Linked DNA regions of Homo sapiens. Each later gene encodes a partner of the first gene's protein in a complex. Each region holds a gene or a part of one and is shown on either strand. Other genes may lie near its edges.

The links. The genes of interacting proteins can lie anywhere in the genome.
Region 2: KAT7 (region 1) and JADE3 share a complex: the UniProt entries of both Homo sapiens proteins name them as parts of the HBO1 complex.
Region 3: KAT7 (region 1) and JADE2 share a complex: the UniProt entries of both Homo sapiens proteins name them as parts of the HBO1 complex.

Annotation. Positions count from the first base shown.
Region 1 is NC_000017.11:49,826,681-49,833,680, forward strand, and holds part of KAT7 (histone acetyltransferase KAT7), read left to right. Parts: intron 1-12; coding exon 13-119; intron 120-720; coding exon 721-822; 3' UTR 823-7,000. UniProt on the Homo sapiens protein: Catalytic subunit of histone acetyltransferase HBO1 complexes, which specifically mediate acetylation of histone H3 at 'Lys-14' (H3K14ac), thereby regulating various processes, such as gene transcription, protein ubiquitination, immune regulation, stem cell pluripotent and self-renewal maintenance and embryonic development.
Region 2 is NC_000023.11:46,915,421-46,922,451, forward strand, and holds part of JADE3 (protein Jade-3), read left to right. Parts: intron 1-7,031. UniProt on the Homo sapiens protein: Scaffold subunit of some HBO1 complexes, which have a histone H4 acetyltransferase activity.
Region 3 is NC_000005.10:134,521,341-134,528,700, reverse strand, and holds the start of JADE2 (E3 ubiquitin-protein ligase Jade-2), read right to left. Parts: upstream 3,032-7,360; 5' UTR 3,007-3,031; coding exon of another isoform or gene 2,959-3,006; 5' UTR 2,690-2,958; intron 2,594-2,689; exon of another isoform or gene 2,415-2,593; intron 2,070-2,414; exon of another isoform or gene 1,943-2,069; intron 1-1,942. UniProt on the Homo sapiens protein: Scaffold subunit of some HBO1 complexes, which have a histone H4 acetyltransferase activity. Acts as an E3 ubiquitin-protein ligase mediating the ubiquitination and subsequent proteasomal degradation of target protein histone demethylase KDM1A.

The DNA of each region.
Region 1 (7,000 bases):
CTTCTGTTTCAGAAATCAGTCAGGAGACGGCTGTGAATCCTGTGGACATTGTCAGCACTCTGCAAGCCCTTCAGATGCTCAAATACTGGAAGGGAAAACACCTAGTTTTAAAGAGACAGGTAAGGTTCTCATCAGGGGCTTGCTCATTGCTGGATGTCCTTCAAGACTTAGCAGAGCAAAGTATGGGCCTTAAGACTGGAGAACCTTCCCTTAAAGGAGTTGGGCTACACGCCCCTTTTACTGGGTCTCATTTCTGTAGCTGGCAGTGATGCCTGTGTTGCCTTATCCTTATCAGAAGGTTTTGATAAGCTCCTGTCTCAAATTTGGATGACACAAGTTAAGCAGCTCCAGTTAAGCAGCTTTATGTTGTACAGCATTTCTGTCATTTGATGTTTTTCTTAGGTGGGAGGAAATTGCCCATCTGTAGAGGAATCTTCACAAATGCTGTCTCAACTCAAACTCACATCTAATTTTTTAAATTATTTCATATATACAATAAAGGTCGGTGAGCGATGATTTTCATTTCTCACTGAGGGTAAAGTAGGAAGAATGGATTAGATAGGAAAGCAGTTTATAAGTCAAAATATAGTATTTTTTTTGATACCCTAATATGTTGTTAAACCTTTGGCAATTCCTTCTTGGCGGTTAGTTATTTTGGAATCTATGTAAAGGCACTTGAGTTGAAAGTATGTAATCCTTTTTCCCATTGTTCTCCCTCAGGACCTGATTGATGAGTGGATAGCCAAAGAGGCCAAAAGGTCCAACTCCAATAAAACCATGGATCCCAGCTGCTTAAAATGGACCCCTCCCAAGGGCACTTAAAGTGACCTGTCATTCCGAGCCAGCGAACCCCAGCAGTAGGAATCCGTACCCTAGGGATCTGTCTGTCATTTCTCTGTTGCTCTTGTGATTGGCAAGTACAGTATCCTTTGGGAAGGCCATCCCCCTCAGGACTGTCCTGGCTCCGACCTTTGTGTACACTGCAGACGCTGGTTCTGAGGAACTGTTGTTTCGGCCTCAGTGAGGTTGCCTGGATGGGATCTGTATTAGACTTGAGTGCAGGTCTCTCAGCACTGACCCAAGGAGTTCTGTTATGGTACTGTACCTGTCCAGTCACTGGTTCTCTCCTCATGTCCTCTCGCCCCATGAGGTTGTGTTGTGTCTTCTAAGCGTGGTACTAGTGCTTGCCACCTGGTCACCAGACCTCCAAATATGGCTGCCACCACCAGGACCTTTCCAGTTACTCCTTATATGTGTGTTCTATGGAGGGGCAGGGAAAAGGTGGCACTTGTGAGTGTGTGTGGATTGGCAGGGGGTCCATTCACTTTGGGTTCCATCTTGCTTTAAATTTCTTCATTTTGATTAAGAGACCTCTTTTTGATCTGTATTGGGCTAACCAGAGCCAAATACTTTTGAAGAGTTTCCCAGGGACTAGTCATGGTAATAGCATATAATTGATCTGAATGAGATGGAGAGAAGAATGAAGGGGTGGTGGTTCTGGGTTTGATTTGAGTTCACCTGTGGGCAGTGGGCAGTGGGCAGTGTCTTGGTGAAAGGGAACGGATACTACTTTTTGCCTCACCGTAAAGTACTCACTAGTAAATATTTCCTTCTCTCTTTACTCCCACTTTTTACGTTTGCAGGTGCCAAAGTAATGTCCACTTTTCCCTTTCATGCTGCATATTAACTGGTTAATTATACTGCAGAAACCTTTTCACCTCCACTAGTCTGATACAGTACATCTGTACTTCCATATACCTTGCACTGATTTTGTCTGAGTGCCCTGGGAGAAGTAGAAAATGATTGAAAGTGACTTCCGTATCTCAGCCCATGACTCAGCAAGGCAGAATGGCCACCCCTGCCAAAGTTTGCTTCTCTTTTCAACAGTGCCTCACCCTCCCTCTAGGATTAAAGTGCTTCTGCCCTTCCACGAACTCCTCCTCCATTTCCTTTTTGGGATTTGTCACCATCCTTCTATTCTCTGGTCTTCTATTTTTGGTGTTGTTCAAGTGAAGGAAGAGATGTTCCCTCTAATTTCTCTCTAGCCCATTATAACCTGCTATCTTGGGGCAACTTTTGATGTATGACATGTCACCCTTCCCAACTTGGTCTCCTCCAACATGCTGTCTTCATGTGGAGCCCTCACCACAATCCCTGACTCCGGTCATTTGTGCCTTTCTCTTGTCATCTCTGTACACTACTTATATTCACTGTGGGTTGGGGGAGCTAATTTTAAGCATGTTCAGTGGCAGCTCCCCTCCAGTTTCAGTGTCACTGTTAAAATTTATCAAAAAGCAACTTCACTAGGGGTTTTCTTAAGGGATAAAGGCCTTTTACAGAAGCTAAACCCTTCCCCACATGTGGTAGAATGTGCTCTTCTATATCTACTCCTCAATAAAGCATGTTCTCTGCTCAAGTCTGTTTCATCTGGGGGCTCTCATTTATATATGAAAATGATGCACACGATCTGCTACTAATAGTAAATGCACTTGGGATTTGCTTTCCCTAGCAGTAAACTGTTGAGGGATGTGGTTTGTGGCTATGGAATGTTTTTCCCTGTGATACAGGCTGTCTGTAAAGATCAAGGGAGTGCTCACTCTGAACTTCTCTAGATGGTGGCACAAATTTGATCTGCCTCACTTTGGTTCCAGCTAATCAGTATACGTAGCAATGATTAGTCAGTATTACCCATTCTTTCACTAAGTGCCATTTTCCACTGATTTTAGGGGCAAAGGAACCAATAGGAAATTAGGATATATGGGGGTACAGTTGATGCCTGTAGGAGATGGGAACAGACATTCCTTCTCATCTCCAAGCTCATTCACCAGTATTGAGCAGTGTCACCTCTAATTATTGACTCTCTCGCAGGTTGAAATTATTCTTTTTGAAAATAGCTGCATTTTCATGTAAGATATACCCAGCACAGGAAAAGGGTGGCTGAGCACTAACCTCCGTATGGTGGAAAGGAGGAGGCTGGGAATTGTATGTGCTGGAATGGTTTCACTCACTGTGACCAGTAGTGGTGAGAACCCATACAGTTGAAGTTTTTTGCACAGTCCTGATCCCAGGTCTCCACTCGCTTTGCCATCCCACTTTACTCCCTAAAAATAAAAGGATTTATTATCTCATTTAAACCCCCACAGGTGTGGAAACAGAGTTTCACTTGCCTTGGCAACTTTGCATGAGACTATCCCATTTCATTCCGTTTTTTTTTTTTTGAGTCAGAGTCTGGCTCTGTTGCCCAGGTTGGAGTGCAGTGGCGCAGTTTTGGCTCACAACCTCTGCCTCCCGGGTTCAAGTGATTCTTCTGTCTCAGCCTTCCGAATAGCTGGGATTACAGGTGCCTGTCACCATGCCCAGCTAATTTTTGTATTTTTAGTAGAGACAGGGTTTCGTCATGTTGGTCAGGCTGATCTCGAACTCCTGACCTCAGGTGATCCGCCCACCTTGGCCTCCCAAAGTGCTGGGATTACAGGCGTGAGCCACTGCACCCGACCTATTTTTTTTTTTTTTTTTTTTTTTTTTTTTAAAAAAAGACAGTCTCACTCTATCATCCAGTCCGGAATGCAGTGGCATGATCTCAGCTCACTGCAATGTCTGCCTCCTGGATTCCAGTGATTCTCCTGCCTCAGCCTCTCAAGTAGCTGGGATTACAGGTGCAGGCCACCTGGCTAATTTTTGTATGTTTAGTAGAGACAGGGTTTTGCCATGTTGGCCAGGCCAGTCTCAAACTCTTGACCTCAAGTGATCACCCGCCTCATCCTCCCAAAGTGCTGGGATTACAGCCGTGAGCCTCTGCACCCAGCTTTTAACTCCCTCTTATCTGCATAACAGAAGCTTAGCTGCTTAAGCTCCTTTATTAGAAGAGCAAAAGTCTGAAATTATTCCTGAAACCTGCTCAATGGAAGTACCTACTCTATTGGTTGCTTCCCATATGGTTGTCACTGTACCTTCATACTGCCTCATTTGACCCTCATATTAGCCCTGTACAGTAGATGGGTACACTGGTTTGCCAAAGGAGACCTGGAATCCAAGGTGGAAGTAAGCAGCAAAGCCAGAAACTTCAATTCTGGTCTGTCTACCTTGATAGCCTGCACCCTCCCCTCTACCGTTTTCTTCCACTATTTTTGATTCCTTAATGATGAATCATCCTCTCCCTTCTAGTTGGATTTGTTTCTAATGGCTTCCATTACAAGGATAATAATGAAACTGGTGAAAACTTTCAGGCAAAAGGATTTTCTTTTTATATTTTTTCTTATTATTTTTTAATTATTAACCAAATTAACTCATTACAGTAAAAAGGACTGATTTTTAAGCCAGCTGTGATAGCTCTGTAATAGTCTGTAATCTCAGCACTTTGGGAGGCCAAGGCGGGCAGATCGCTTGAGTCCAGGAATTCGAGACTAGCCTGGGCAGCATGGTGAAACCCCAGCTCTACAAAAAATAGAAAAATCAGACGTGGGCACATGCCTGTAGTCTCAGCTACTTGGGAGGCTGAGGCACGAGAATCGCCTGAACCTGGGAGGCAGAAGTTGCAATGAGCTGAGATGATGCCACTGCACTCCAGCCTGGGTGACAGAGTGAGACCCTGTCTCAAAAACAAAAAACAGAATTGATTGATGTTAGTTGGCTTTAGAAGCAGCAAGTTTAGGGGGCTACAGAGCTAAACCAGGAAGCAAAAGATGTGCCTCATTCTGGCATTGTTTCTGATTTAGGAATAAACTGTTCAGTAAGCACTGTCCCTTTACTTCCATGGTTTTCTTCATTCCTCACCACAGCACAGTAAGGTGGATATTATAGTCTTCTTCTAGATGAAAAATTGAGGCTCATAGTGGTCTTGCTGCTGTGTCATAGCAATAGAATGAGAGAGCCTTGCTTCCCTGAGTCCAAATCCCATACTTTTGGCATTGTTATGAGGTCTGGTCACCTGATGCTTCCATGCTATTTTCCCATTTCTTATCTGGGGATAATGAGTCATATTAAGTAATTTTTTTTTTTGAGACGGAGTTTCGTTCTGTCACCCAGGCTGGAGTGCAGTGGTGCGATCTTGGCTCACTGCAAGCTCTGCCTCCCGGGTTCATGCCATTCTTCTGCTTCAGTCTCCCGAGTAGCTGGGACTACAGGTGCCCACCACCACGCCCAGCTAATTTTTTGTATTTTTAGTAGAATGAGGTTTCACCGTGTTAGCCAGGATGATCTCGATCTCCTGACCTCGTGATCCACTCGCCTCAGCCTCCCAAAGTGCTGGGATTACAGGCGTGAGCCATTGCACCCAGCCATTTTTTTTTTTTTTAAGACGACGTCTCACTCTGTCACCTATGCTGGAGTGCAGTGGCGTGATCTAGGCTCATTGCAACCTCTGCCTCCCAGGTTCAAGCGATTTTCCTGCCTCAGCCTCCCAAGTAGCTGGGATTACAGGTGCCCACCACCTCGCCTGGCTAATTTTTGTATTTTTAGTAGAGATGAGGTTTTGCCCTGTTGGCTAGGTTGGTCTTGAACTCCTGACCTCAGGTGATCCACTCACCTCAGCCTCCCAAAGTGCTGGGATTACAGGCAGGAGCCACTGCGCCCAGCCAAGTAACTTTTAACAGTGTGGTATAACCTTTAAATGACAAGGTGATGCTTTTGACTTGTCCTCAACTTTGATTTGTACTGATTTGTCCCTATAGTTCTGGGTGGGGTGGGTCAAAACAAAGTCTCGAGCTGTACCAGGATCAAGCAGCACAGCTCAGCCATGATCCTTTTACCACTTTTTTCTTCTGTCCTTGAGACTCTAATTAAAGCACTGGATTTTTAAAAATCACCCTTGTAAATATGCACACATTTGTCTATAGTTGAGGAAATTGTGCCGTTGAAGTCCATTCTTGGACATGGAGTTAAGAAACCCTGGTTTGAGAAAAAGCCCCAGTGAGACAGCAGGAATCCTTTTACCATACAACCCTCAACTAGTTTAGTGTGCTCAAGCTCAAATAACCAATCCCATCAAGTGAAAAGAATGGCAGCAGGGAGAAGGCCTGGCTCACTGAGGCTCTCAGCATTAGTTTCCTCTACCTCTTGTGTCTCACAGGTGCACATATGTACAGCATATCAAAGTGTTGAATGTCATGAGAATAAAATATGAAAACTACTTTGCTGAATGATAGTATGTGATGTGTGCTAGGACTTCTAGAAGCCACCCTTTGCTTTGCTGTTCATTGGGATCATGGAATCGGACCTCAGCTGGTTTTGCCTCAGCACTTTCTTTCACAAAATTATGTGTGACTGCCTCCTCCAGACTGTTTCCTGCTGATAGGGGCAGTTTAATAGCCTTCTTCCTGTGTGGTATCTGCAACAAAATCCCAATGAATGTCACCAAGAAGGAAACAAAGGATTGCCCAGCGATGAGAAATGTCCCTGGTGCCAAAACATCAGTTTGCCCCTAACCTCTTGTGCAATACCTTTAAGTCCAGGTCATGTTGTTACCATTTGGGGGTTTGCGGATTTGTTTACTTGTGCCCAAGAATGGAGAAAATAACCTGTACTATTGTACAACTCTGGCTCCATGGCTCCTCACAAATGTTCCATGTGAGATATAAACATCTTTATCCTCGACAAGTCATGTTCATTCCAAGAAACCAGTCTTTGTTCTTAATTGGACATTTGTTTCTGCAAACAGCTTACCATACATTCAATTCCAAAGTTATCAGAAACCTACACTCTTATCTCACAAATTTAGAGGTGTGGTAGATCATCTCCAAAGATGGCCACCAACAGTTGCTCTCATCCTCTGTGCACGTGCTATTTCCAATAAGGTCTATTTTTTTCTACAGTGAGGGCTGAACTTGTGACTTGTTTTGACTAATAGGATATGGAAGTGATATTTTGGCAGCTTCCACTTTTGCTCTTGAAAATAAGCTGACACGTTTCCAAACGAGAAGCTTGGGCTAAATTACTGAATGGTGAGAGACGATGCATAGGAGAACCAAGGTGCTCTAGTCACAGCACTAAAAGCCCAGACTTG
Region 2 (7,031 bases), on another chromosome or scaffold:
GTGACACCTGTCTGGCACTCTCCTAACATGGGGACACTTTAATGGCTCACAAGTTTCTGTTGTTCCAGTTACAGTGGCTGGGAAAGCTGAAACATTCTGGTTTGTATGGTGGGGAGGATCTAGGGTGAATGGGTAAAAGTGATGAACAAATAAACGGGTACTAGCAAGTAAGTGGTCATTACAAACCAAATAACTACCACTTTGAGTTTTCTGATTTCTGGAATCTTTATGACTCCCTCATGGTTATTTTTGCCTTGTTCCTGTAGGTCTTTCCATAGATAATAACAACAAAATTCTTACCATTAGAACTGCCTCTGTGCTTTTCTTGGGAGAAAGTAAAAAAAAAAAAAGGGTCCTGGGAAAAACTTGCCCGATTTCATAGCTAGGCTTGTGAAAAGGAAGGTGATAAGTCAGAAGACAGCCGACTGAATAAAGGACCTGGTGTGAGGAAATAGTACTGGGGCTTTGACCAATAGGAAACACCTATGAGTTCATCAATGCTTTTCAAGCAGCAAATAATTTAATCTTTGCCAAAACCCAGGAACTATGGCTGTGCCCTGCTACCCAAGGAGCTCCTTTTCCCTTGGTATTGGCTGATGGGCAAGGAAACCCAAGCCTAGAATGTGTTTTTTTGTTTTGTTTTGTTTTGTTTTGTTTTGAGACACATGACAAGAATATATGATACCAGCATGGCCAATACACTAGACTTTGTGTGTTGGAATCTTCTGGGACACATTCTTTTTTAAATTTTAAAAACTTATTTTGATAATTACAAACTGTTATAAGAATAGTACAAAGAACTCACTATATTCCCAATTAGTAACGGTTTGCTCTCATTTGCTTTATCACTTGCTCTTTTAGTTCTCTTTCCAAACCATTTGTTAGTAATCACTGAAATTTATTATTTGTTGTTTCTTTCAAGCCATTTGTTAGTAATCACTGAGAGATTGGTACTTATCAAGGGCATCCTGTCCTGAACAGTGGCTCAGTTGCAGCCACTGGGTATAGCAGAACAGTGGTGGTGAGGCAGGGTCCAGAGGTAGAGCAAAGTCTACCTACAGCTGTGAAGCACACAGTTTGTAAACCGTGTAGAATCTCTAGGGCTAGATATAGAAATCATTATCGATTGTAAAAGTGGTTAAGATAAACTCCACTTTTCTCACCATTCTTGTCAAGTTTGTTCTTAACTATGCCAAACTTTAATACTGTTAATGAAAATTCACTCCACTCCCCAACTTTGCAACAATAATATATTCTCCAAGATTTTCATTTAATTCATTCAGCAAACATGTATTAAATACCTTCTGTTTGCTAGGGGTATAAGAGGTGAAAGATACCCCCTTAACAGCTCAACTTCCAGTGGAAAGGAATTAAGTCATCTTCTCACAGTCAGGAGGAAGAGTGCTCTGCTGAAGGGGTTCACAGGGAGTGATGGGAGCACCATCCTGGTTAAGGATCTGAGAAGTAGATCTCTGGGAGTCATTTGGGATGGGTGTAACTATGAAGATCTGTCTTCTCTGAGGCCTGCTCTTAGATGACAAGGTTCATGAGTTAGAGAAGCCTTTGGTGTCATATACCCAGCACAGGCTGTGAGGTCAGGCCAACTTGGATTCAAATCCTAACTCTACCACTTGCTCTTGGCCAGTTATTTAACTTCTCTGTGCCTCAATTTCTTTGTCAAACCATATCTCTGAGGGTGGTAGTGAGAATTGATCAATGCTCTGTAAACATTCATTTCATCTTACTCTACAAAAATGCAATGTATGGGGAAATTGCCTGAAAAGTAATAGGTATTAAGGTGGGATCCAAGCTGGTGGGGGCGGGTGGGGGTGGCTCGGTGTGTTTCTATTTTTTCAACAAATAAATATCTAATTGCACTAAGAGCTATGATGGACATTACCATATAGGATAATAACAATAACAGCAGCAATGATTTCTTAAACATTTCCTGTGTCCCGAGTACTGTGCTAAGTGCTTAACTAACAGAGGATCTCTCTCTCTGAGGTGTGAGACTCAGAAAGGTGAAGCAAAGGTAACTTGCCCAAGGTCACGCAGCAAGTATAAGGTAGAATGTCCCTGTGAGGGAGACCAGCATGGTGCCCTGAGCCTTGAGAATGAGCAGGAATAAGCAAGGTAAGGGTTAGAGAGAAGGGATTGCCAGGCAGGGGTAGCAGCAGGTGTTGTGAGGGCACTGAGGTGGAAGAGAGATGTGGAAAGGATCCACAGAGGTTTGGCTAGGACTTGGGGTAAGAGAGATGAGGTGGGCAGGGAAAGATTGACAGGGCCTTACGGGACCTCATTAAAGAGCTTGTGTTTTATTCCAAGTACAATGAGAGGTGTTTCTTTCTCTCTCTCTCTCTCTCTCTAATGGGAGGTCTGTCTCTCTCTCTCTCTCTCTCTCACTCTCTCTCATCCTCTCTCTCTCTCTCTCTCTCATCCTCTCTCTCTCTCTCTCTCTCTCTCTCATCCTCTCTCTCTCTCATCCTCTCTCATCCTCTCTCATCCAGGGAAGCATATAGTGAGGCCTAAACAAAAATGGTTTAAGAAAGTCATTTCCCCTTCAGTGTCCCACCTTGCAATCCAATAGAGGCAATGTCTCTGGACCAAATGTGTAGGTCTTAAACAGTTTTTATCGACTGCCATTAACATGGCTAAAAAGAGTTTCTATGATGCTGGAAGAAGCTGGTCCTTCAGAATGCTTCTAGAAGGAGGTTTAATTAGGCTCATATAGCTGATGCTTTTTAGGCTGCATTAAGGGAGCTCTTTCAGCTCTCACTGATCCCTGTCACATGGGGAAAAAGTAGAATTGAGAGAAAACATAATTCCTGGAAACCTGAGTTGTTGTTCAGTGTTAGAAATGGAACTATCGAGTATAAGACTTTGGTTTAAATATATCATGATAAAGATACTTCAGTGACTAAATGGAAATTTTTTTATGTTTTTTGTTTTTTGCATGTGTGTGCCATCTGTGATGGCAGACAGCACATTTGTTAGAATCTGGGAAGACTTAAGTATTTTTTCAATACTTATATATTTATATTTATTCTCATCCAGGTACTAGAAGTTTTTCTGTTTGAAACTATTTCTTATCTACAGAGTAAACTTCACAGGAGGAAAACCAGTGTTCTGTTCCCCTTCCCATAAGTACTAGGCCACAAACATATTTACTTTTAAGTAGCCTGTGTCAATTAGCTTTTTGGGGGAGGGTGGTTAGCTGGTGGCTAGATGATCTGGGATAGCCTTACTCACACATCTGGTGGTTGGCAGGCTGGTTGGTCTAGGAGGCCCTAAGCCGGGATGGTTCATCTCCATTCTATGTGGTCTGCCCTCCAGCTGGCTAGTCTGGACTTACTAACATGGTGGTCTTGAAGTCACAGAGTAGCAAGTGAGAGCAAGCACCAGTGCACAAGCACTTTTCAAATGTTTGCTGTGTCACATTTGCTATTGTCCCATAAGCTAAAGCATGGAAGTGCTTCTGTGGCCAAGCCCAGAGTCATTGTGGGTGGTGACCATTCAAAGGTGTGGATACAGGGAGATGTGAAAAAATTGGGGGCCATTACTGCAATAATTCATAATAATTAGCAATGAATGTAAGCTGTTAAGCTTTGATAAATCTTGTTAAACACCCATTTCTGAATGTAGTGTATTCTAGAGACTAAATAATGTGATTGTGCCATTGGTAACACCTCTTCCACCAAGTGTGGAATGGAGTGATGGTTTTTCTGGGAAGAAGCCAAAGGCAGACAGTGTGGTTTTGGACATAGATATTCTTGTGAGTGGCTTAACTGCTTTCTGATCTTGTGTGGCTATTATCAAAGGAGTCTCTAGATTTCCTCAACCTTCCATTCAAGCATTATCACGAAAACCCTAGTGTATTAGACTCTACTAGATTTTGTGGTCAAGCCAAAAGACCGTTATTTGGGAACCACCACCACTTAAGAGATGAAAGAAACATTTGCAGTCTTTCCTTGGAACCTTTATATGATTTATAATTTGTACCTAAGAGAGGAAATCCGTATTTGAGCATTGGTAATAAGGACAAGGGATTCTCTGTAAATGTGTTTTAATTGGTTAAGATTTAAAAATCTTCCTGTGGTTGCAGTGAAAAATCCAGCATTGTACTGTGAAGTGAGTGGCCAGGAATTACCAATTTGGGGCATCAGCCTTTGACCTTTGCTTGTGAAGATCTCAGAAGTAACACTTTCCACATAACTGAAATAGGCTTCACAACAGCTTGTGGCCTGAAATATATTACATGAAAATGCAACTGGACCCCAGGAAGTATGTGTGGGAAACTATACAAGGCTCATTTTGTATGTCTTAGAGATGTACATTCCCCCAGAAAATTGCCTGGTGGTAGAATGTTAGCTTTTCTTCTTTCCTCCTAGGATAAAAATTAAAAATCTCTGACATTTTAAAAGTCAGTGACTTGAAAGAGCAATCAAAATTTATAAACACACACATCATTAGACCCCACAAACACTTCCAGGAATTTATTCAACAAATATTTGCATATTAATTGGAGTATTGCTTGTAGTAGCAAAAGATTGGTAATATCCTAAGGGTCAATCAAGAATATTGAAGACACTGATAGTTTTGGAACACGCATGACCAAGCAGGTAGAGGGTGAGAGGGAGACTTTTCACTACATAAACTTTTACGTATGTGTTTTGAATTTTAAGCAATGTGAATATATTTTCTTATTTTAAAAGTTAAATACATTTTTTAAAGAGATGATATATAGTGATGCAAAATTCCATAGACTCCTATCCGAGTTGACCTGATCAGAGCTATTCCTGTTCAAAAAAAATCTAGCCAGTTTTTCCCCCTAGAAATGCCTCACGATAGTGTACTTCTGAATTTTTAACTATAATTCTGCCTTTTCCAGAATATCACATGAGTGGAATCATGCAATATGTAGCCTTTTTTTGGTCTTGCTTTTAGTGGATTCATCCATATTATGTGAATGAATAGCCTGTTCCTTTTCATTACTGAATACTATTCCATTGTATGGATGTACCACAGTTTGTTCATTCACCTGTCGAAGGACGACTTAGTTGTTACCAGTTTTTTGGTGGTTTTCAATAGAGCTGTGGTAAACATTAGTGTACAGATCTCTGTGTGGACATAAGTTTGCAGTTTATTGGGGTAAATACGTAGGAATGGGATTAGTGGATTTTTCTTTGACAGAAATTACCAAACTATGTTCCAAAGTGGTTCTACCATTTTATATTCTCCTGCCATGAATGTGATTCCACGTATGGATGTCTAGTTGTCCCAGCACCACTTGTTGAAAAGACTACCCTTTCTCCATTGAATTGCCTTTGCATATGTGTCAAAAATCAGTTGACTATCCTTCTGTGGATCTATTTCTGGGCTCTCTGTTGCATTGATCTATATATCTATCATTTCTCCATTAACACACAGTCTTGATTATTATAGCTTTATAATAAGCCTAGAAATCAGGTAATAGAGTACTCTGGCTTTTTAAAATCTTTCTCTCAGGGTATGCTTAAGTTACTTTTTAAAAAAATTTTTTTATAGAAACAGGGTCTCACTGTATTGGCCAGGCTAGTCTCAAACTCTTGGTCTTAAGCAGTCTTCCCACTTTGGCTTCCCAAAGTGCTGAGATTACAGGCATGAGCCACCACGTCTGGCTTTTTTTGCTTTTTAAGAGACAGGGTCTTGCTCTGTCACCTAGGCTAGAGTGCAGTGGCCCCATCATAGCTCACTGCAGCCTTGAACTCCTGGGCTCAAGTGATCCTCCTGCCTCAGCGTCTTGAGTAGATGGGGCTATGGGCACATGCCACTATGCCCACCTATTTTTAAATATTTTTTGTGCAGAGATAAGGTCTTGCTATGTTCCCCGGGCTGGTCTTGAACTCCTGCCTCAAGTGATCCTCCTGCTTTGGCTTCCCAAAGTGTTGGAATTACAGGCGTCAGCCACTGCACCTGGCCTGGCTTTTTTCTTCTTTTTCAGAGTTGTAGTGGTGAGAGAGGACATCCTTAACTTGTTCCAATCTTGGAAAGCATTCCATCTCTCACCATCAAGTATGATGTTGTAGGATTTTTTTTTAATATACTGTGTTGTGCAGAAAAGAGTTAACATAGCAGACCTGAGGCTGCTGTCTTTAGAAGGCCAACGTGCACGATTGGCCCTTAGCTGGTGTTTGGGAAATTGGCTTTTCAAATGTTTAAAAAGAAAAGATTATATTCTACCTTCATTTATTCCTTTTCCAATGCTTTTCATTTCTTTATGGTAATCCAGGTTTCCTACCTTGATCACAGTCTTTCTGCTTAAAGAATCCCCTTTAACCTATCTTTTGAGGGCAGATCTGCTGGCAGTAAATTCTCTGTTTTTGGTTGTCTGAGAAAGTTTTCATTTTCCTTCACTTTTGAAAGGACACTTTTGTGGGTTGACAGTTGTTTTTCCTCTTTCAACATAGTACTCCACCATTGCCTGGCTTACGTGATTTCTGATGAGAAGGCTGCTGTAATCCTTTTTTTTTTTTTTAATACCTTAAGTTCTGGGATACATGTACAGAATGTGCAGGTCTGCCACATAGGTATATATGTGTCATGGTGGCCCGCTGCACCCATCAACCCGTCACCCACTTCAGGCACCTCTCCCAATGCTATCCCTCCCCCAGTCCCCCATCCCCCAACAGACTCCAGTGTGTGATGCTCCCCTCCCTGCGTCGATATGTTCCCATTGTTCGACTCTCCCACCCATGAATGAGAACATGTGGTGTTTGGCTGTCTGTTCCCGCGTTAGTTTGAGGCTGCTTTAATTCTTATCCTTGTTCCTCCATAGTTAATGTGTCTTTTTTCCTCTGACTACTTTGAAGATTTTCTTTTTGTCTTTGGTTTTCAGCAGCTTGAATATGATATGCCTAATTGTGGCTTTTAAAATTTTTTCATTTTTGTCCTGCTTTGTGTTCTCTAAACTTTATTATATCTGTGGTTTGTTGCCTGTCACTAATTTTGGAAAGTTTCTCAGCCATTATTTCTTCAAATAATTCTATCTTGTT
Region 3 (7,360 bases), on another chromosome or scaffold:
GCTGCAGAACCAAATGCTTTTCCACTCAAAACAACAGCCAACAGCACTTGGGGCAACCTAGAGGGCTCCAGATCAAACAAACATCCCTTCCTCTACCATGCAAACTTGCTCAATAAATTATTCGCCCACTTCGGATCAAAGCCTGTTTTTGCAGCCTGTGACCCAAAAAGCAAATAGCATCTCTTAAACATGAAAGCCCTCCTCCCTGCCTGGGTCAGCTTTATTACTCATTCCTTCCCCCTTATAGTTATTCTGTTGTTATTTTCCTCCTCTGCTTGTTAGATGGCTCTGCGAGTCCCAGCCCGTCTAAGGAAGATGGGACAAGACGGACGGTGCGTTCATCTGGGGCCCTAAGGTGAGAAAGAAAGTCAGGGTAGGGGAGAAGCCCTGGGAACCCAGGAAACAAAGCCAGGCCCGGTTGGCAGCTCCATGCCGAGCCCTTTTGCCAAATGTCCTACTGGGAATTTTACCAGTGAAGGGAGGGAGTTAATGCCACTCCGAGAGGAGGGGCCAGGCGGCCCTACCACCTCCCAGGTCCAGGAATCAGTTTGCAAACATAAATGCTAAGGGGGCGTCCTGACAGCCTGTCTGGGATCAGAGCTCAGGGGTCCTCCTTCCAACAAAGGCAAGGCAGCAGGTCCCACTCAGCCCCTTCCTAGACGCTTTGGAACCGCTCTGAATGGAAACATGACACCTCTCGATGACCCCCTACAAACTCTGACCCGGGATACAACTTTGTGCCTCGGGATCCTGCAGAAGATGACCCAGGGGTGCTAGACGCAGCGGCGAGGTTTGGAAATCTGCAGAGACCAGAATCGCCGGCCGCAGTGTGCCTTCGGCATACGGCAAAGACACCCAGTGACCCTTCACCTCCCCCAGCCTCCAGCAAGAGGCCAGCAGCCAAGCTGGTAAAAAAGTGCCCAGGCCAGCGGCAGTGGCTGAGGGGATTGGGAGGGGAGTTGCGCGCGCCTCCAGCCCGCCCCTGGAGGCAGTCCGCGGGACCGCAGGCTGGAGGCGCGCCGGCGTGATTCCGACCGCCGGAGCCGGGAGGAGGAGCCGGAGGAGGCTGCGGGGGGCTCCGGCCCAGGCGAAGGAAGGGCAAGAGGCTGTTCGACCGGGGGCGGCGCCGGGAGGTGGGTGGGCTTAACACCCAGGTCGGGGGAGGGGTTTAAGAGACACCGGGAAGGGCAGCCGAGCCCCAGGGGCGGGTGGGGTGGTAGCTGTGTGTAGTAGGGGACAGGGCTGGGCCTCTGGAAGCTAGAGTGAAGCCTTCCTGGCTGTCTCGCAGGCAACCCCATCCTCTGGCAGAACAGCTGCGAATCGCCAAGTTGACCCCTCTCGTCCCTTGGCCGAGAGGAGAGGATGTCTCAGGACCCAGGGATGGGCGGGAAGAAACCATGGGGAGCCACAAGTCTGCACCCAGGCGGGGAGGAGGCGGGCGGGCGCCGCTCCGCAGGCGCAGGCGAGTGGGTGGGAAGAAGGGAGGGAGAGGGAGGAAGGAGGTGAGGCCGGGAAGATGCCACTGCCGGGGGCGGGGCGGGGCCGGGGATCCGGCAAAGGGACTGCAGCAGCGCTAGGTGGGGGCGGGGGCTGCAATGTCACTCATTTGAGAGTCAGGTGTGTGCGTCCCAAACGGGGTCCGCCACAAGCCGGCATCTTCCTGGTACCACCCATGGTGCAGGGCCCTAGGCAGAGGGCTGGGGACTGCGGATCCGTCCCTGAAGCGGGACGCGAACCGGCAGAGTTGGGAGAAGGTAAACAAGGGCCACGCCCCCTGCCGTCGCCCCGCGGGCGCGCACCCGCCGCTCCGGCCGCCGCCGGTACATTTCCACTCTCCCAGCGCCTCTCCCCAGCTGGACTACCGCGCGGCCCCGGAGGTGGAGGCTGCCCCCGACCCCAGTCCTCACCCCTGGCGCCGAGGCTCCGCACCCTCCACACTCACCTGGAAAGGGTGTCCCCCGCCCCTCCAAAAAAACTGTCTAATTTGTGCAGAGCCTCCAACCCCAGGAGCCGAGCATGCTGCCCCCGCGTGCAGCGCCCGCGTGCACCGGGCCGGGAGAGGGGGCGACAGGGCGGAGGCGGTGGCCCCCGGAAGGTGTCTGGGACCGGACCGGCTGCACGTGAGCCCAGCGCGAGGTCATGTGCACCGGCTCAGCCCGGTTCGGCGCCCGGACGTGCTGCGTATCAACAAAATGAAACTCGGGGAGACAGGAGGGCAGATAGCTCCAGGTTCTCGGAGCCCCCGCCCGGGCCGCTCGACCTCCCCACCGTACCCATCTCCCGCCGCAGCCCCTACGCCCGGCCGGAGCCCGCGGGGAAGTTGCAGCCCTGGCGCGCCCCCGCCCGCCCGCGCCCCCTCGCCGGCCCGGGGGCGCTTTGCCGCAGTCATTAATAAAGAAGGTCGCCAAGCTCACCCTTCCAAAAGTTGTTGTTGCATGCGCCCCTCTCAGCCTCCCCGCACTGTACTCTTTAAAACACGACTGACCAACATGCGCAATCTCTCTCCCCTGTGCTGTGCATCCCCCCCCTCTCCGCGCTGGCTTCCTAGAACAGGCAGCCAGCAGGAGAGAGAGGGAGCGAGCGAGCAAGAGAGAGCGAGGGAGCGAAGAGCGCTGGCAGATCTGTTGCAAAAACGCCAAATAACGTCGTGGAGATGCGCAGGGCCCATCCGCCGGGGGCTGGATCTTACCTTGCTCCGCGGTGCCCCCCTGACGGGCGCTGCCCTCGGCTACGCGCCGCTGCAGGGACCGGCGCGGGAAGGATGCTCCCGAAGCCGGGAGCTCCTGGGGCCGGCGCGGGAGGGCGGGGGGCGCGCATCCATCCGGGGTCGCGGCGAGGGAGGCGGCCGGGCCCGCGGCGTCCCAGGCCCCACGCCCCCCGCCGGGGACGGTCGGCCCGCAGGACCTAAGCCGGTGCCGCTAGGAGTGGGCGCAAAGTAACTCCATGGACGCTACTCACCCCCCCCAAAAAATAGCCTCCAACTGCGATGGCCGCGGTCGGCACCATTCACCAACCCCCTGTGTATGTTTCTGTTTCTTTTTAAACCAAGACTTCCTTGTGATCTCTTTAGAAAAAAAAAATGTGTTGGGGTGGGGGTGGGGTGGGGGCGGGCAGGAGGAGCGAGGGAGGGGGAGTAGCCACTTTTTTCTTATTCACTCGGATCTCCGCTCCCGACACCCCCGTCGCCGCCCCCCCAACCCCCCGCCCAGTTGTTTGGCTCCGGCGGGGAGTCCAGGTAGCGTTGCGGGCCCCGTGGGGGAAGGGTGCCCTCCCTCGCAGCCCCACCACCACGCCTGCTGGCACCCTGGGCCCGGACTCCCCATGGACTCTGGGGCGCCCCTAGCCCGCCCTGTCCCCAGGGCCGGGCCCGAGCGGCGGCTGCGCCCGTGCAAGTCCCATCAGGTCTGCTCACACTTCACACACTCACACACATACCCCGCCCCTCCACTCTTTCACTCACACTTTCTGCTCACACCCCGCCCCCTACGCGCCCCAGACCCGGGCGGCGCCCCCCGCAACCTTAAAAAAAAAAAAAAGCGAGCTTATACTTAAAAAAATCTTTTGGCGCCATATTAATGACGTACTTAAAATTTGCCATTTCTCCCTGCGTCAAAAAGACGTTTCTTTGCAAATAACAGCCTGGAGGCGACACTCGCGGAGGGAACGAGGTTTGCACTGAGCACCCCGCCCCCCGGGGCTCCAGCGCTGGAAGACCCTCGCCCTAGGCCCTGCTTCTGAATCGCTGGTTTTAAAATGCGAATCGAATAAATTGCGTGGCGTTTTGCAGCACCAGAAGTGAGCAGAAAGTGCTGGCAGGAGGGGAGTGGAGGGGCGAACGCGAGTCTTGGGGAGGGGGCGCGGCCCTCCTCCCCGCACCCACTCCAAATGGAAAACTAACATTCCGGGCGGGGGAACTTGAAATTGTAGGCGACCTCAAGAAAAGAGGGGCGGTCCGTAGAGAGGGTCCCCATTGGGCTCGTCGCCCCCTCCCCCCTCCCGGGTGCCTCCTGGCGCCTAGCGCTGCCCCGCATTTCCGGGGGGTGGAGAAGGCAGTGATGAGCGGGTGGGTGGGTGGTTGCACATCCTGGCCCCAGCAGGATTTTGCCCCGGGGCGACCCCTTCCTCCTTGCTCTTCCTTCCCATTACCCCGAAAGGGTTAAAAACCGAGGGGTAACTTCCAAAGGCTGGCACATGGCGAGGAAGCGGGGCGCCCCTCTCCCCACCCTTCGCCTCCTCGCCCCTCCTCCTCCGGCTCCACTTCCCGACTTGACCTTGTGGTGCACAAACAGTACGCTCGGATCCTCGCAGTTTCTGGAAGAAGAGCCTGCGCTCGCCAGGCGGGCGGGCTGTCGGGCTGCTAGCCGGCGGTGGCGGGGCCTTGGGTCTGTTCCCGGAGCCGCGGGCCACACCCACCCAACCCGCTGCGCCCGCCGAGCTCACCTTCTCTCGAGGAAGGAGAAGGACTGGCCTCCTGGTTGGGGAGGAATCGGGGGTCAAGCTCCAACCTCCTCGGAATGCCTCTAGCTGGGGAGGGGGTGGGTCTGGCCTCGGGAGGAGGTTGTGGGGAGCCTGGCCCAACATCCCCAAAGCATCGTGGCCAACTTTTTCTTCCCCCTCATGGTCGGCTGCCCCTCAGATTATCCAATAATTTTTCAGCTCACCTTTGGCTTTGAAGGCACGTGGGTGAGTTGTGAATGGACACCGGAGTCGCCTTCCCTCTCCAAGACTGAAGATTGTTTATTCTTCCTTTCCCCTCCACCCCCTTCCATGGGAAGATAAATATTCAATTTACATAAGATGACATTTATGTGACAATTAAGAAGATTCCCCGATGGAATGTTGTGAACACATTTGCTTATAGGAGAAATAAATCTAATAATAAACAAACTCATAATAACAGCACAAATCCTCCGACAGGGCGGATTGTCTACCCAACAAAGAGGGAGATGATGAATGCTGAAATAAGCAGTTTTTGCAACAAGAAAGAAATATGAGCTCAAAGGGAGTCACTGCAACATTTCTTCTTCCTTGGCCTTCATTCACAAAGTCTGAGGAGAATTGTCTGGCAAGAGGATGGTCTGGGTATTACCTTCCAGTTAGACCTGGCTGTGGCTCTCAGTGGTCAATTGGTGGTATTTTTCTCTAGCCAAGCTCAGAGTCTGGAAACAGGTGCTGCAGACTTGGAGTGTGTAACAAAATAGTTAAATACTTAGGTTCTAATCCTGGCTTTGCATTTCAGAAGCTGTGTGATGTGGGCAAGTGAATTCATCTCCCTGGATCGCTTTTTCCTTTTGGGTAGAATGGGGTGGTTGGAGGGTTCTTGAGGCCATGTGTGCACATACACATATATGTATGTACGTACATATACAGGTGGTATGTGTAAAGCAGCAACTGGCACAGGGTGCATAGTGCTCATTAGCACCTTGCCTGGTACCTAAGTGGGTTTTTTTTATTTTGGAAGGGTGAAATTGTTCTCTGAAGCTTGATGGTCAAGGTCCAGATGTCCATTCCGGGGTGGGAGTGAGGGTACCAGTTTACAGTGGCACAGTCTAAAGAGATGACCTCCAGAGATGGATGAGGGAAGTGTGACCATTTAAAGTGCACCTGCAGTGTACTGGTCACTTTGTGAGCCATTCTATCTCATCCTCCCCCAAACCCCTTCCTCCCTTTTCAGAAAGGTTTAGTAACTTACCACAGCCACACAGCTAGTAAGTGCTGGCAGAATTGGCTCCTAGGTCTAGCTGACCTTGAGACCTATGTAGTTTCTATTTTACCACACTGCCAGAAATAAAAAGTATTACTATTATTGGTTTGATTGGGGATGGGGGGATCTGATTGCTGTCTTGGCAAGAAAGAATTTTATGAGCAGCACTTTGCTTCTGAGGTGGTTCCCTGACTTGGGGTGAGACCCAGGCCTTCTAATGAGCCCTTGAAAATACCTCTTGCTTAGGACTGGAAGCCCTATCAAAATCCTTGGATTCCCACAGTTCTCTGCTGCTGTTTAAGGTTAACCTTGGAAGCTTTAACAGAATGATAACGATAAAGCTAATTGTAACTCCTTAATCTTTATTAAAAGTCTCACAAATCATTCATTAACTTTTTTTTTTTTCCTTTTTCCACAATCTCTGCTTTGGACGTAATCATTCATTAACTTTTTACAGGAAAGAAATGAGAAGAAAGAGAGTTCTTGGAGATGTAATCCTTCATTGTTTTTCAACAAGCCTCCCGTATGCCAGAGACCATTCTTGGTGTTGGGGACACAGCACACACACACACACACACACAAATAAGTAAATAAATAAAATAAATGAGGAGCAGGGCAGGGAGAGCATCAGGAAAAATAGCTAATGCATGCTGGGCTTAATACCTACGTGATGGGATGATCTGTGCAACAAACCGCCATGGCACATGTTTACCTGTGTAACAAAACTGCACATCCTGCACATGTATCCCAGAACTTAAAAAAAAAAAAAAGGTAAAAATGTTAGCTGCTAGAGTGAGCAGGTTATTAAAATTGGACATGATTTTATTCTAAACTCTAAAATATAAAAATAACTATATGTTTGAAAGTGATTAAGTGCTGTGGAGAAACTCTTAAGAAGGAAAGGGCGATACACAGTGTGGGAGTGCAATTTTAAATAAAATAGGGAAGTTCTCACCGAGAAGACAGTCTTTGAGAAGAGCAGGTAAAGGAGTGAACTGTATGTGGGAGTATGTGTGTATGTACATGGGGGAAGAGAAGCCAGCCGTTCTTAACCTGGAGACCATAGACTCTCCTCTCCATGGGTCTGTGGATAGAATTCAGAGGATCTTGACCTTAGGTGAGAAAAAAATTACAACTTTATTTTCACTAATTAAAATGTAGCGTGTCCTTCAATTATGAATACAGATAACAAATCAGTGATATTAGCAGCACCTGTGACATTACTGCTGGTAGAAATCACAGATATTTTCATATCACTTTAGAGTTGTTGCAAATATCTTAAAATATCGTTACACTTTATGAGTAATTTATTGAAAAAGTATCATTTTACTCATCACTACTTCAAAATCATGCTGCTAACTCTTATAATTTAATGAATTAATAGAGAAGCACATATATATGTTTAAATATTTCGAGAGTTGTATTTCAGTACAATTTGTTTTCTTAATGATTTGTGGAACTTATTTTATGGATTTAAAGATACTATACTCAGAAGGAGTCCACAGGTGTCACAGACTGCCAAAACAGTCCATGGCACATGCACAAAAAAGGTTAAGAACCAAGGTCTCAAGAGACCAGCAAGTGCAATGCCTCCGAGGCAGGAATATGCTTAATATGTAAATGAAAGAGATTATATAGGGCCTTTTAGGTCATTGT